Regions from separate parts of the Homo sapiens genome. Here region 1 is linked to region 2. A link means that fine-mapping ties the variant in region 2 to the expression of a gene that starts in the linked region. Tissue or cell type: whole blood. Region 2 holds a variant in brackets; the other region holds the start of a gene. All regions are shown on one strand. Distances are from middle to middle.

What was found. PIP is the estimated chance that this variant, and not a neighbour inherited with it, causes the effect.
Region 1: it holds the start of MMP17, and the variant in region 2 is fine-mapped to the expression of MMP17 in whole blood (TOPMed, PIP 0.95).

Annotation. Positions count from the first base shown.
Region 1 is chr12:131,827,294-131,829,910 of GRCh38, reverse strand. MMP17 (matrix metallopeptidase 17) reads right to left here and starts at 1,518. Exons shown (of 10, transcript NM_016155.7): 1 at 1,258-1,518. The coding sequence starts at 1,416. RefSeq lists a silencer at 1,524-1,653.
Region 2 is chr12:131,626,647-131,629,399 of GRCh38, reverse strand. No RefSeq gene overlaps it. Among named protein-coding and RNA genes, the nearest start is that of LINC02414, 20 kb to the left of the region's middle. The variant A/G (reference allele first, on the strand shown) is at 1,099.

The DNA of each region.
Region 1 (2,617 bases), 200 kb before region 2:
ACTGTGGGGACCTGCAGGCACCTGGACGCGGGCAGCAGGGACAGTGGCCAGCACCCTCCCAGATGGCTTCGGGGCCTGGGGCAAACGGTGGCCAAATCGGCTTCCCATCCAGACCCCCTGGCCAAGTCCTGCCAACCACAGGGGCTGCGGGTGCCACCCAAGTGGCCCCTCCATATGCCTCGACTGCCTGAAATACACCTGCGCTGACTTGCTTGGACCCCAAGGTTTTGGAGCTCCTGAATGTCCACTGCGCTGGGCGAGGGGCCCTGCCAGGACCCCACTGGGAGACTGTCCGCGGACGAGGGCCAGGCCGAGTACTTGTGTGGGGCGGGGAGGCCTCGGCTCCTGGCCCGACTCCCTGGGTAGGAGTCCATTGAAGGCAGCGGTGGGGCAGGAGCCTCAGAAGGAACCAACGAACCCAGCGGGAGTTCACCCGGCCGCCCCAGCGGGGGGGCGCTGACCCCACGACGTGTGCTCTAAATCTTCCGGGTCCACAGGAGACGCGAGTCCCGGCTGCGGAACAGGGGAGGGGGCTGTAGGAAGAGGCCACGTCGCTGCCCCCAGGCAGGGTTTCTAAGCTGAGCTGGGGACAGCTACTGGGTGTGGAGTGAGGAAGGCTCTCCCCGCGCCCCCGGCTCAGCACTGTACCAGGGCAAGGCAGGGCCAGCCTGGCCGACCTGGGGTGGAGGGGAAGGAGGCTGAGGGCCAGGTCCTTGTCCAGTGGGGAGCTGGGGGCCAGCATCCCTGTGCCCCCAACACCCTCAACCGAGCAAACTCGGGGGCTCAAGGCTTTCGGGGTGCCCCCACTCCGTAGCCCCTGCCCTTCCTCGCTTTGTGGGTGCGTGCTCCTGCCCCCGCCACTCCCACCCGGAACGCACGCAGCGCGCAGAGCTCGGGGCGGCCGCGATGCCTGCTCTCGCCCAGCCCGGCTGCTCCGGGGCTGCTGCAAGCCGGCGACCCGGGCTCCGGGTGGGCGACCCCCTCACAACTCCACGGGCTCCTGCGGCTGCGGCGCGCTCCCAGCGCACGGAGCCGGGACGGCAGCCGGCGCCTCCCCAGGACTCGCGTGCGCTCGCCCGGTCGCTCAGCCCGCGTCCCTGCCTCAGTCTCCCCACCCAGGAAATGGGTCCAGGGCGCCAGGGCTCCCGCGCGACGCCGACGTGCACTGCTGGGGTCTTCCCGGTCCCCGCCACCCGGCCCGCGGAGACCCCCGGCTCCGGCCCAGGAGCTCCGCGCCCGTCCCGCCCGCGCGCTCACCACTCCCAGGCTGAGGTCCTCGGCGCGCGGCGCGGGTGCGGGCGCGGCGCAGCCCCCGCGGGTCCCCAGCGCCAGCAGCAGCAGCAGCGGCAGCGGCAGCCGCGAGAGTCCGGGCCCTGGGGGCGGCGGGCCGGGTCCCCGGGCTGCGCGGCGCCGCATGGCGCTCACATGGGCCCGCGGGCGGCGTGCAGGGTCCCGCGCCCTCCGCTTCGCGTTCCGCAGCCCGGCGCCCTCCGCTCTCCGCGGCGCCCCCGCCGGACTGAGCCCCGCGCGGCAGCCTCAAGCGGCGGGGCGGGGCCATGCAAATGTATGCTAACGAGGCCGGCCGCCTTAAAGGGCCCGCGCCGCCTCGGACGCTGCCACCCCCGCCCGCCCCGCCGTGTCCGCGACGGGACTGGGTCCGCGGCATCACAGGGAAGGCGTTTCCCCGGGTGTCTTAGGACGCTCTTGGGGCGGCGGGGACGCGCGGGATGGGCGCGGAGGCGGGGGTCGGGGCGCCTGCGGGGAGCTGACCCTGACTCCCCTCTCCGGCCGCGCTCCCGGGTCCACCCCCCACGGCGCCGAGGCCCGGGTTCAGACCCGGGTTCAGGCCCCGGAGCCGCCGCCGCAGCGCAGCAGGTGGGCGCTTGGTGGAGCCCGCGGACCGCGGGAGAGGGAGGGTGGGGCTTGGGGGGCGCGGGGGACTGGAGGGCGAGGGCGGGTGTTGGGGGGGCTGGGGTCCTCGGCGGAGGCTCTGCGGTCCCTGCGGGCCTGGGAGCGAGAATGTTAACTTGTAATGTTTGTTGGAGCGCAGCGTGTGCCTGGCACATGCCCAGGAGTTACATAAATAATTTCATTTACTTACAACATTTATGAGATGAAAACTATGATTTCCATTTCGCAGACAAAGAAACTGAGGCCCAAAGAAATGAAGTAACTTATGGGAGGTCCTGGAGCGGGCAAGCGGCAGAGCCAGGGTCAGAGCCCGAGCAGGCGCTTGTGTGGATTGAACTCGTGCAAGTTGCGTACAGGCTGCCCACCGAGTGGGAGATCTTGGGAGAGGGCAGGGGGTGAGGTTCAAGGGTAACCCTTGCCTTTATTCAGCTTCTCCTCGTGCTGGACAGCATGGCTTCCCCTCCTTCCCAGGCCCTCCTGCTCCACCACCCCAAATCGCAGCTGGTACTGTCAGGACTGAGGTCTCATTCTACGGACAGGGAAACTGAGGCTCGGCCCCTTTTACCAGAACTGGTCTCAGGGAAGTGGTGCCCCTCCCCTCCTGTGAGGGCCGACTCCCCCCAACCACCCCCCCCCCCCCCCCCCCGCTTCCCTGGGTACTCTGGCCCATCCTGTCCCTGCTGCCCTCAGAGCCTCCCTGGCCCGG
Region 2 (2,753 bases):
AGGTCCTTTGAGATGACCCAGGAGCTGTCGACAAGGCAGGGCCAGGGCCAGGGCCAAGGCCAGGGTGGAGATCAAGGGGTGTCAGCAGAGGGGCAGGGGCCACACTGGGGGGCTTCCCAGGGAGCAGGGTCCCGGGATCAGCAGGTCACCCTAGGAGGCCTTGTTGAGTCTAGCCTTCAGGGAAGCTGTTTCTGCGATGCCCCAGGCACCTCTCAGCATCGCACAGGGCAGGGCTGTCCTTGAGTTCTAAGTCCTGGGACCTGGTGTTCAAATTCAATGGACTCAGATGCCCCACAGAGCCCATGTGCCCAGCCACGGAGGACGTGGGGTCTCTGACCACAAATGGGGCACGGCCAAAGGGCACCCGGCTCCCCCTCAGCCTGTCACAGCATGAGGTTGGGGGTAGAGTGGTCCTGCAGCCCTCAGCCCCACCCCGCTGGTGTGGAGTTGGGAGGGCACAGGAATGGGAGGGCCCAAGGGCTGAGGACCAGCAGGTGCAGAGTGAGGAGGGGCTGAGGCGTCCAGGATAGAGGGAGGCCGGGCTGAAGGGCGGCTGGGGGTGGAGAGAGGCCAGCTCCTCACACGTCCGCCCCCCAGGTGTTTGAGGCGCGTTCGGTATCCATCTTGGCGGACCTTATTCTGTGGCCATGGTTCTGGGAGGATGGAATCCTGAGGTCCGGTGTGCGGGGCCCCGAACAAAAGCCCCACGGTGTTCGGGGCCAGGCTGGGTGTGGGATGAGCACAGGAAACGGGGGCACAGTTGCGGAGGGAGCCCAAGGAGACCATGGACTTGGCAGGAAAATCCCAGGCAGGGCCCAGGCAGGGCCCCTGAGTCTGCGGGACCCCGAGGCGGGCGCTCCCTCAGGGACCACCCAGGGCATCAGCATGGCCGCCTAAAGTCCTAAAAATACCTGCCTGAAAGGAGCCTGCAGTCAGCTCCCTGGTCTCCCTTCCCTGTTATGACTTCCCAGCTCCTGTTTTTCCCAGGAAGGACAACCCCCCCCATCCCGAATCCCCCAGAGGCACGTCCTGGGAGGGGGCGCAGAGACCGCAGGGCGCCCTCCAAATGAGACTCCTGAAATTTCCCAATCCATTTCC[A/G]CAAGGTGTACTTTCCTTTAAAATAACTCTAAAAATTTGAATATATTAATCACATAAATAAATAACACACACCATATTACATATCCCATATGTCAATATTTACACATGCATTATGTAAATCGATTTATGCCGTATATTTATATAGATGTAAGCATGTATATGCGATGGAAATGTACACATGACATAATATAAATATTTGATTCCTCATGTTGTTTGGAAGAATTGCCTGTTACTAAAAATGGGACCATAACTGGATCCAGAAAAGTATTTTAACACTTGGAGCTCTTTAGACACAAGAATTACGTTGCTATTTAAATTTCAAACACGTTTTTTGTTGTGGGGAATGTAATCTGGCAATTAGTAAATACTTCCAAGCATTGAGTACTCACTCCATGGAGAAACGGGATGCAGTGAACTGTGAATTGGAGTAGAAAGGATGCTGTGGTTTTCCCTCTGTACATTTAAGTGTGGATGGGGAGAAGGGAGTGGCTGTGGTCTCGGGTGGATGGGGTGAGGGGAGTGGCTGTGGTCTCGGGTGGATGGTGAGAGGGGAGTGGCTGTGGTCTCGGGTGGATGGTGAGAGGGGAGTGGCTGTGGTCTCGGGTGGATGGGGAGAGGGGAGTGGCTGTGGTCTCGGGTGGATGGGGAGAGGGGAGTGGCTGTGGTCTCGGGTGGATGGGGAGAAGGGAGTGGCTGTGGTCTCGGGTGGATGGGGAGAGGGGAGTGGCTGTGGTCTCGGGTGGATGGGGAGAAGGGAGTGGCTGTGGTCTCGGGCGGATGGGGAGAGGGGAGTGGCTGTGGTCTCGGGCGGATGGGGAGAGGGGAGTGGCTGTGGTCTCGGGCGGATGGGGAGAGGGGAGTGGCTGTGGTCTAGGGCGGATGGGGAGAAGAGAGTGGCTGTGGTCTCGGGTGGATGGGGAGAGGGGAGTGGCTGTGGTCTTGGGTGGATGGTGAGAAGGGAGTGGCTGTGGTCTCGGGCGGATGGGGAGAGGGGAGTGGCTGTGGTCTCGGGCGGATGGGGAGAAGAGAGTGGCTGTGGTCTCTGGTGGATGGTGAGAGGGGAGTGGCTGTGGTCTCGGGCGGATGGTGAGAGGGGAGTGGCTGTGGTCTCGGGCGGATGGTGAGAGGGGAGTGGCTGTGGTCTCGGGCGGATGGTGAGAGGGGAGTGGCTGTGGTCTCTGGTGGATGGGGAGAGGGGAGTGGCTGTGGTCTCGGGCGGATGGGGAGAGGGGAGTGGCTGTGGTCTCGGGCGGATGGGGAGAGGGGAGTGGCTGTGGTCTCGGGTGGATGGGGAGAGGGGAGTGGCTGTGGTCTCGGGTGGATGGGGAGAAGGGAGTGGCTGTGGTCTCGGGTGGATGGGGAGAAGGGAGTGGCTGTGGTCTCGGGCGGATGGGGAGAGGGGAGTGGCTGTGGTCTCGGGCGGATGGGGAGAGGGGAGTGGCTGTGGTCTCGGGTGGATGGGGAGAGGGGAGTGGCTGTGGTCTCGGGTGGATGGGGAGAGGGGAGTGGCTGTGGTCTCGGGTGGATGGGGAGAGGGGAGTGGCTGTGGTCTCGGGTGGATGGGGAGAGGGGAGTGGCTGTGGTCTCGGGTGGATGGGGAGAGGGGAGTGGCTGTGGTCTCGGGTGGATGGGGAGAGGGGAGTGGCTGTGGTCTC